Linked DNA regions of Homo sapiens: region 2 is linked to region 1. Evidence: fine-mapped expression QTL. A gene starts in region 1. The other region holds a variant in brackets. All regions are shown on one strand. Distances are between the middles of the regions.

Region 1 (5,376 bases):
GAGTTAACAGAAACCTAGACATGCTCGTCAGTTTCCAAGGCAAGCTGCCTCTTGATCCAGCCATGGGCAATCATACCAGCAGAGAGCTGCTTTGCAAGGGGCCAGCCAAATTTGAGTCCCAGCCTTCGCACTTTAACTGCAGTGCTTCTCAAGAGCATAAGGACAAGAGGACCCAGCTTCCCATCCTCTTCATCTCAGCTGACCAGGCACTGTGGGCAAAAGGCACACCACAGGGCCAAAGCCCCCAAGCCTTTTGCCCACACTGGGCAATATCAGGAGCCCCTGCCCCAGCAGGGCTGGGACCTCCACAGTGAGAAAGCCCAATTCCGGCTTTAATGCATAACAAATCACTTCAGTCAACTGGGGTCAGGGCAGGGAAGGGGCTTTCAGAAGGAACAGTAGGGTCTCACTACACCAACCCCCGGCCTCCTCTACTGACAGGATGGGGCCGCATCCCTCCCACCTCTCAGCTGCCCTATCTCCCCCGCCTGTCCAATACCCCATCTCAATAATGGGCTCATATCAGGCAGGGCCAGGGTTCTTCTCTTCCCATAGGCCAACACACTATAATATTTGCTTTCCTTCCTTCCTTTCCAAAGCCTACCAGATTAGATTGCTGGAGTCCCATCCAGCTCACTGAGACAGATGGAAAACGGAAAGTAAGGCAACCCAAACTGTTCATGGTGGAAAAAGAGAGGGGGCAGAGCAACCCAACGTCCCAGCACCCAGATCCTCTTTTCCAAGCCCTAGGTCTATCACAACCGGAATAAGTCGAGCCACAGCAGTTTCCGTGAATCAGAAGAGATATTCTGATGCACTGTGGTCTGCAGCAAGCTCTCATCTGAGTCATCCAGCCTTTCAGCAGGGGCATCACCCACCTGTCCATCTGTCCCATGAATTGGACAGGAGACCAACGCTGCTTGGGTCTTCCTAGTATCCTAGCACTTCGGCAAACACTTGGCAAGGTAGTGGGAGGGCTGCTCTGGGGCTCAGCTGATAGGGCTCATCAGCCTTCCCCTTCCCACTTCTGCAGAACAAAAACCTGCACCAACCAAAACCTGCATGTCTTCAAGATTTATTTTAACCACTCAAAAATACCGAGCTGAATATGGTTCAGCTCACTACCATGACATGATGGGATCTGCAGGCCCTATTTCCTTAACACAGAAGAGAGAAGAAAGCACCAATGACAAGGAAAAAGAAAGGGTTGCAAAAACTCTTCACCAAAGGGCAGGCAGTTTCTCAATCAATACCAAGGTAATTACCAATCTGTGAAATGAGCAAGGCTCCCATTACCAGCTAGCTAAAACCCCACTAGGAGTGCCATAGACAATTTGTAGAAAGCATGCTGTAATGTACAAACAGGGTCAAAGGATACTTAGGTGTAAAGGCAACATCCGGACTAATAACTCCCATGTACCAGCTTGGAGAACCAAATCCCTACAGGTTTGAGGAACAACCACACTGCTCTTTTCTCTGCCATTTGGACAAGTGCAAACAATTCATGTGTTTGCATTCATTCATTAATGCAATAAACATTTACTTAGCACCTGGTACATGTCATACGTTGGGCTGGCCATAATCTAGACTACAAGCTAGACCTCTGATAGTGCAAAAGTCATCTGCCTTCAGGCGGCACATGGTGAAGAGGGCTAATGTCTGAGATGATGATGATGCTTTCTAAAAGCTTACTCTGGCTTCTCAAAACAAGTGGGGGGCTTACAAGTCCTGTAAGCTCGCCAAAGACAGGGTCCAGCCCTCCAGAGGTAAAGGAAAAAGAAAAAATAAAGACAGGGGTTGTGTTTTGTTCATCACTGCCTTGCATGTATAATACATGTCAACTGAATGCAACTGAAATAGAAAGCAAAAACTTCTATTCTTTCAAGATCTTTTGCTTTGCTGTTTCGGAAGGCTTCGCAACCAAAGAAAAAAAATGACAAAAGAAGGGAAAATGGGACTTGGTCAGATAGATTAAGAACACCATTAGTGCAATCTTGGGACTTCAGCCCCAAGTGCATCTACAGCTCAGCCTTCAGAGCCCCCAGAGCCACAGCTGGCTTTCTGGTGGGGTGCTCTCCCCTCCCTCTTCTCTGCCGTTTACTGTCCTCTGAAAACCCCACTTGGAGCCCTAAAGAAAGAAAGGGGGCGGGCAGGAAGAAGGAATGAGAAGGGGAAGATACATCCTGAACCTGCGTTCACCAAGAAGGAAGGAAGCCAAACCCTAAGGCTAGGGCCTGGGGGCAGGGCTGGCCCCGGGGAGGAGATGTGAGGGTGCTCCGGCCGCAGCGGGCCCTGCGCCCCTCTCTGGGCGTGCAGGGACACTTTTCCCTTCTAAACGGCCTAGCTTCCCACCACCCCCCCCCACACCCTTCTTTTCTCTTTCTTTTTAAAAAAATTTTGGTGAAATCGTCTTTAGGACTGGAGGAGAAAAGGGAAGCGTGTAAGGTGAGGAAGAAGTTGGTGAGAGAGAGAACGACAGCTCCCCTCGAGGGCTCACCCAACCTGGCACCGAACCTGCATTTTAGGGCAGTCCTTTTCACTGTCTGGAGTTCCAGAAGCCCGAAGTCCAGGCTGCACCCAGAGGAAAGGACAGGAGTCCCTAGGGGAGCCTTCTAGGCCTGTCATTTAATAAGGTAGTCGGGGGAGTGAAAGAGGAGTCTCCATGGCCCAATCCGTACCCAAGGGACTTGCCTGGGGACGTTCTCTGCTCTCCTCCCCTCCCGCAGCCCGGGCAGTCGTTGCGGGGTCGGTGCCCCAGCGCCAGAACCCGCAGAGAAGTTTCGCTGCTGCAAACGTGAGAAAATGCAGCTCAGCAGAACTCCCGCCCCCACCCTCTCCGCGGCCCCACCCCCCGCAGCCCGACCCCTGGCGGCGGCGACCTTGGCCACCCGGGGCACTTGGAGGAGGGGCTGCCCTCGGGGCTCTCCCAGAGGGTTGGAGGAGGCCTCCAGGGTCTGCGGCCACCTCCCCTCGCCTGTCAGCCACTAGGACCGGCGTATTCAGCCCTGCGCGCGCGCCCCTCGCGCCCCTAGGCCGCCAGGCCTCCGCCGGGGCGCCCCCTGCACCCCCAGCCCCGCCAGCCCCCGCGCGCCCCTCTGCGCCTCTCCACTCCCGAGCCCGCGAGGGCGCCCAACTTACCCCCCCGTGCAGGGGCCGGGGCTCGGGCGGGGCGCGTTACATCGGGCGGGGTCGCCCCTCCGGCCGCCGGGTCCGCCGCGCTCCAGGGATTTCTGGGTCTGCCTGCCAAACTCTCCGCGCCTCTCGCTCCCCTCGCTCTGGTCTCCCCCAGTGCCCCCTCCTTCTCTCCCGTCCCTCGGCTCTTTTTTCCGGGTTAATTACGTTTCGCATTAAAGCAAAACCCAGCCCCGGATGTGAGTACAATGCTCCGCGGAGCCCGCCGGGGAGGGAGAGGGGTGCCGGGGCGCCGCGGGCTGGGAGGGGGTGCGGCCGGGCGCCGGGGCCGCGCGGGGGAGGCGGGGGCGGGGCGCCCGGAGGCTGCGCCCGAGGCCGCCCGCGTTCCGCGCCTGGCAGGTGGGACCTGCGCGCCGAGACTGCCCCGCGGGGAGGCCCGGCCCCGACGCTCGCTCGGGCAGCAGGTGTCCGGGCAGGGGGCGTCCTCGCAGGAGGAGGCGAGCTGGAGCGCGAGCTCCCTCAAGAACCCCATTTCCTCCTCCCAGAGCCCCACCCAGCGACCTCAGCTGGGCCTCCTTCGGATCCCGAGCCCTTAGCCTTTGGGGACCGAGGAGTTGGGGTAAGGGTTAGGGTCCCAAGAAGAGTGGCTTCTTCAGGTTGTCCTAAATGTGCCCTAAGAGACCAGTGGGCGGGAACGCTCTAACCAGGGTTATAAGGACTTTAATTTCTTTATTTTATTTTATTTTTTAATCAAGACAGGGTCTGGCTCTGTCGCCCAGGCTGGAGTGCGGTGGCGCAGTCATAGCTCACTGCAGCCTCGACCTCCTGGGTCCAGCGATCCTTCTGCCCCAGCCTCCCGAGTAGCTGGGACCACAGGCGCCTACACCGTGCCCGTTGGGACTTTTTCGGTGTGATGCGAAGACTCCCTTCCTGCCCCCAGAGCATGAGGGTGCTCTGGGAAAAAATGGGAAACAGACAAGCATGTGTTACTACGTAAACCTCGCCAAGAGGAACTAAGAGAGCTGCTGTGCGCGGGTCCCGCCCCTGCGCTATCTCATTTGATCCACGCCGCAACCTATGGGTACCAGTCCGGTTCACGGTGAGGAAACCGAGACTCAGACTTGTGAAGTAATTTGCCCTGGGTACCCAGTTAGTAAACGGCAGGTCTGTCAGGTTCTGACTCCGGCCTCCCACGTCGGGAGAGAGACATTTGAATATGCATCAAGTCAGGTGGACAACATCCGAAACATGAAAATGTAGAAGATTCGCGCGGGCCTGCGGGGCCGTGCGCCGGTGTCTGGCGATCCTAATGCAAACGTTGTTAATCAGGTGTAAATCCTACGAGGCTTTGAAAGAGGCAGGCATAAGAAGACGCTGAGGTTCTCCAGGACAAGGACTGGATTTGCAGGAAGGAGGGAGAGGCTGGGGCACATTCCCGGTGTTAACAGAGGAAAGGCGGCCTCTTATGTCTCCACGACCGACCGGAGGCCACAAGGCCTGGGGAGGGGGGCTCGGGCCGATGAGCCAGGACCGAGGGAGAAGGACAGCCCGCCCCACACACCCCGAAAGCACCAGTGATGAAACCACACAAGTTTCCTCTTCCATTTTGATTGCCAAAGCAAAAATGAACACCGCCGGTGTCTCAGGTGTGAAAAAAGACTGTTTGCTTTAGAGCATTTTGCTTTCAATGAGGAAGAAAAGGGGGACGATGGGCAAAACACACACACACACACACACACACACACACACACACACACACACACACATTTCCCTTGAAATAAATACATCAATGTCTTTTTTTTCCCCGTTCATGGAGGGTTTTGCCACTCATCTGTAAGTTTCAGGCACCAGAACAAACTGAAGAGCATCTCCTCTGGAAGCAAGGAACCTGGATTTGAAGCCCAGCTCTGCCGTTTACTGGCTTTGACCCCTGGGCAAGTTACTTAACTTCTCAATGCCTCTGTTAGGAAAAGTCAGTGAGTTAACATTTGTGAAGTGTTGAGATTCCTGTCGAACGTGAAGTAGGTGCTACGTAAATGTTTTTTAAATTTAAAAATTAGATGATCATTTTCAGTATGAAAAGCAACACAATTCCATCCAGCTCCAAGCAAATCCGACTGGAACTGAGGGTTTCCAGCATGAGCAATGAGGTAAATTTCTCAGATTTCAGGGTATGGTTCATATTAAACTCATAAAACTCTACTCCCCGTGGGGCTGCCTGAGTCACTCCATCACAGAGCCACA
Region 2 (5,376 bases), 62 kb after region 1:
AACTGGCCAGTTTCATTTTTATTTTAATATGAAAATAAAGCCATTTCATTGCTATAATTGTGTCTGGTTGATATGGTAAAGTTAAATTAAATCAACAGGCCCATTTACATCTAAATTTGAAACATTATACTAATGTCTTCTAGAATATGCAGCTTGAATTTTTCAGAGACATGGAATTCCTTCTAATCCCTTTTACTAAAACTGAAAAGGTGAATTACCAGAAAGAACATTTCTAGAATTCACCTGAGGTCTGAGGGTTCAATTAACAGTTCTTGCAGTCTACGCCACAGCCTGGGGCTTATTGGCTTGACACAGGAGAGGAATGGCCAAGACATGGCACCCAGTGGGCCAGATGCCTGAACAACCAAAGAAGGAAAAATGTGGAAAAAAATCCAGCTTCACTGGAATAGAGGATACAAGGCCAGTAGGCCCTGAGCTCCTATTTAAAAGGATACCCACAACCTCTGGCATATGTATTTGATGACCAGTTACCAAGGAAATACACTACTGGAAATACACCAGGAGACAGAGGGAAAAAACACTCTACCTTCTTGAACCCTTCCAGAACACCTTTCAGGTTCTCATATCTCCTGAAGAGATCAGAAAGGGACCTTTCCACAGAGTTAAGGTCAGCCAGGGCCTGTTCCTTCTCCATGGTCAGTTGCTGGAAGCTCTTCTGAGAGGTCATACTTGTCCTTTGTTCATCTTCTGGGAATCACAAGTCAAAAGGAATGACATATTTATTCAAAAAATAGACACTCCTTAGAAGACAAGCAGTGTTCTCGTGGTAGGGACACAGCCGGGGATGTGACCAAATTCCCGCTCTTATGGCTTATACTCTAGTTGGGGGAGACGCGTGGTAACAAGTGATGGGGAAAGAACAAGGCAGGGTAAGGAGGAATGGGGGCGGGGAGGGGGCTGTTACTGTACAGAGAGTACCTGCTCTCAGGGAGAGATCTGAGCATAGACCGGACAGAAATGAGGATGTGAGCCATACAGCTACCTGGGAGAATATTCCATAGAGAAGAACAGCTGTGGTAAGGCCCTGAGCTGGGAAGGCATTAGGTGATGTGGATGATAGAAAGTATCATTTCGGCAATTTAGTGGAGAAAGGACAGACTCTGGTTTAGGGAGTCAATCCTTATGATATAGATGAGAAGAGACTCTAAATTCCATGCAGGAGGATCAATCCCTGTTGTTTTGTAAAGGCACCGCTGGGTCTGATGCAGAGAAATTACAATCTGCACTAGAGTAAGAACCCTGCACCAAAACACAGGATGCTCCCAGTGGGTGTTAGTGATGTGACCAGGCCACCAACAGTCACAGAATTCAAGGCCTGCCATCTTCTAAAATGAACCTAACTACAGTTGACCCTCATTATTCACCAAGTCCATACCTCCCAATTCACCTACTTGCTAAAATTTATTTGTAATCCTAAAATCTATCCTCCTGGACTTTGACAGTCATTTGTGGATGTGTGCAGAGTGCAAAAATGCTTTAGTCACCTGATATGCACGCTCTCAGCTGACAGTGAACAAAGCAATACTCTGCCTTCTTGATTCATTCTATAAACAAGTGTTCTTCTTTTGGTCTATTCAGGCCATGTTTGTTGCACTTGTGTTCTTTTTGCCGGAGACTTCACTGTTTTAAGTGGCCTCCAAGGGCAGTGCCACAGTGCTGTCTAGTGATACCAAGCACAAGAAGGCAGTAAGGTTCCTTAAAATACATACATTACAGAAGCTCTGTTCAGACGTGAGCCAAAGTGCCGCTGACTGTGAGCTCAATGTTAATGAATCAACTATATATATTAAATAAGGTGTCTTTAAACAGGAACACACGTAAAACAAGGTTATATACTGATCAATCAATGAAAATGTTGTGGCCAGATGCAAGACTCTAACTCTGTCTTTTCCCTAGGAGCAGTGTTTATTTACTTATTTATTTTTTGAGATGGAATTTTGCTCATTGCCCAGGCTGGAGTGCAGTGGCACGATCTCGGCTCACCATAACTTCCGCCTCCCAGGTTCAAGCGATTCTCCTGCCTCAGCCTCCCGAGTAGCTGGGATTACAGGCATGCACCACCACGCCCAGCTAATTTTGTATTATTAGTAGAGACGGGGTTTCTCCATGTTGGTCAGGCTGTTTTCGAACTCTCAACCTCAGGTGATCCACCTACCCAAGCCTCCCAAAGTGCTGGGATTACAGGCGTGAGACACCATGCCAGGCCAGGAGCAGTGTTTAGTATTCACTAACTCAGTGTTTGCAGCAACTTTACAGAACATACCTCCCACGAATAATGAGACGACTGTATCTAAGTGACAGACAAATACAAGTTTGTGACATGGTCTGAAAATCATAAATGGATCCGGCTATGGTCTTATAGTTTATGCCACCCCCCAACCCCAAATTTGTGTATTGAAACCTAATCCCCAGTGTGTGAGTATGTTCAGGGTGAAAGTGGGCATGGAAGGGAATTTGGGAGGTGATTATGTCAGGATTAGTGTCCTTATAAAAGAGACCCCAGAGAGCTAGCCAGCCCCTTCTATGAGGAATGGGCCCTCCCCAGACATCTCATCTGTGGGCACCTTGAACTCTCCTGTCTCCAGAGCTATGAAAAATGTTTGTTGTTTATAAGCTACCTAGCTTACATATTTTGTTATACCAGGCTGAACAGACTAAGACAGATCCTATGGCTCATACCCTCAAAAAACAAAATGTTCTCCTTACCAATCATTTGAGCAATAGTCTTTTCATATTCAGCTACAATTTTCCTAAATGAGAAAAAAAGAACTTATTACCAGAGGAGGATTTTCAGACAATGAAAGTTGGAGAAATGCTGTCCCAAACAATTAAACACATTAACATACACTGACAATGTATGTAATCCATTTATCTGCTTTGGGGCTCTCGTTATCTTTTTTTTTTTTTTTTTTTTACATTATATAAGGTTTCTTAAGGTTCTAAAAAGGTTTTTGTTAAGATTTTATCTTTAGTCAAACTTATATTTTACTTATAGAACCAACTGCCTTCCCTTTCTCTTTGCACCTATTTGAATACTGCAAGGAAATAGATTCAT[T/C]CTGCTTAGATGAGTCAATCTTTTACAAACTAAGTTAAAGATATTCTTCTGGGCTCTTCCTAACAGATGCGATCTGACTTTAGACTTTCCTGAGTCAATCCACCCTTTCAGACACTCTACCTCTGATTCAGTGACAAGTTTTATTTTGTGTCCTAATTCCAAAAGTATTTCACTTATTCAAAGACTTTAAAGATCAACCTCTTGGGTTAACCTTTCTTCTAGTGAAGAATGACAATGTCCTTCTGACCCAGTCCGGTGCTGGGTGCTCTGTGAGTCGCATCACGTCCTCCCCTGCCCTCAATGGTGGTGCCCCCATCACTTTTGACGTCATATCCAAGTTGGTTATTATGGATGGCTACCGCTCTCTAAGAGCAGGAATGTCCCTTCCTTTCCATCAAGCCCAGCAAAGGGCCTTACACCTAGGAAATGCTTAAAAGACAAATAATAAAAGAGCAACAAATTAGAGGGATATACTTAAAATGTTTTTTAATCATTCAAGTGTTGACCACACTGTGTGTGAATTATTTATGCCTTTTTTTCTTCTCTACTTTGATTTCATCTTTAGTCATTTCATGGCTCATAACTCTCCTTTCTAAAAGTGAGGAAAAATAAAAAGATTTCGATTTCAAGTCAATCAATTTTGTTTCTTGTTAACAAGCTTTCTATCATCTATTTGGTGGTTATGTAATTTGAAACTCTCATGCATAATTAATTTTTAAAAAGTATTATGGACCAGGCGCTGTGGCTCATGCCTGCAATCCCAGCACTTTGGGAGGCTGAGGCAGGTGCATTGCTTGAGCTCAGGAGTTACAAACCAGCCTGGGCAACAGAGCGAGACCTCATCTCTAAAAAAAATTATGCAGGCATGGTGGCACATGCCTGTGGTCCCAGCTACTTGGGAGGCAGAGGGGAGAGGATCAGTTGATCCCAGGAGGTTGAGGCTGCAGTGAGCCATGATCACACCACTGCACTCCAGCCTGGATGACAGAGTGAGACCCTGCCTCAAAAAAAAAAAAGTAGTATTATGAATTTCAGTGTCTCTATCATTGGATAAATCTTATTTTTCTGTATTCCAAATGGATATTTTGATACAAATTTCTGTCAGTTCTAAGAAGATAAGAATTATGTGGGTTCTGTTTACATGTTATATGTTCTGAACAACCCAAGATAAACTACAGTATTTGAATATAATAACTGGTTAGCAATAACTCCTGAAATAACATTCTCAATCACAAAGCAAGGTGCAAACAGCAAAGCCCTCAAGCTCTCAACACTTGGTTCTGTGGCAAGCAAACACTGTCATCACTTCATCTGTATCAAATCTAACAGTGCATAAAAGTATCCAGCCCCTCCCCAAAACCTCCAGTCTAACCTCATCTCCAAAACTTCTTGCCGGGTCTCTTCGTATTTCTTCTTCCATTCATTTGCTTCAATCTCTTTAGTAATTATCTAGAGTACAATAAAGCTTAGTTTTACCCAATCTATTACAATTTGCATTTAAGACTGGGAACTGAAATAGCACACAACCAGGTCTAACCCAAGATGTTCAATCTATATTAGAAATATAAACTTCAATATTAAATGTTTGTAACCATTTGGAAAAGTGTATTCTAAGCCACACTGAATGCTGGGATGCAGACACGGGAATAAAGATGAGTAGAACATCTCTCAGAAATCCCAAGTAGTATTTACAGCCTCTGTGAACTTTACCTTGGTCCAGGGTCTAGCTCTCAGCTCTGCAGGGCCAGGCCCTGACTGGGACAGACACCAAGAACAGAGCCATCTGATTGGCAGGTATTCACTCTTAACTAAGGCCATGTAATCACGGCTGATGCCAGGCCACCAGAGTGAAACTGCCACAAAGTCAGACCACTGGAAGTTGGCATGAGCAACACATTCTCTTTCTATAGAGATTTCTGACAGCTTCATAGAAATGGAGTCAGAAGGAGGGGGCTCAGATGAGCTGGCTACATCTAGCTATAGCATCCGTCACTTATGGGTAGAGTCTTGCTAGTTAGCCTGGAACCTAGGCTCATATTTGGGATGCTCTTGCTAACTGGAAGGAAATACTCTAAATTCATTGCCTCAAACTCTATTTGCCCTGGGCTGGGCTTGCATGGGCAGCCTCTTACTGTACTTCCCTGGCCGTGCCGCTCTCTTCCTAATTGGTAGTTTCATTATATTTATTAGGATCTCAAGAACATAGAAGGATGTATCCTGTGTGCTTCAGGTAATCAGGCACCTCTTTACTTTGATCCATTAGGTGGTGATCTCATAGTTTAACTCCCAGGAAAAACATC

What was found.
Region 2: its variant is fine-mapped to the expression of PLEKHA2 in whole blood (INTERVAL, PIP above 0.99).

What each region holds. Positions count from the first base shown.
Region 1 is chr8:38,899,208-38,904,583 of GRCh38, reverse strand. It overlaps PLEKHA2 (pleckstrin homology domain containing A2), which reads right to left and starts at 3,238. Exons shown (of 12, transcript NM_021623.2): 1 at 3,139-3,238. It overlaps LOC124901937 (a long non-coding RNA gene), which reads left to right and starts at 3,139. Exons shown (of 2, transcript XR_007060893.1): 1 at 3,139-3,371; 2 at 3,888-5,334. RefSeq lists silencers at 2,567-3,236, 3,317-3,726 and enhancers at 4,327-4,576, 4,637-4,826.
Region 2 is chr8:38,837,619-38,842,994 of GRCh38, reverse strand. It overlaps TACC1 (transforming acidic coiled-coil containing protein 1), which reads right to left. Exons shown (of 13, transcript NM_006283.3): 8 at 4,449-4,525; 9 at 2,728-2,771; 10 at 548-708. Among named protein-coding and RNA genes, the nearest start is that of TACC1, 53 kb to the right of the region's middle. The variant T/C (reference allele first, on the strand shown) is at 3,077.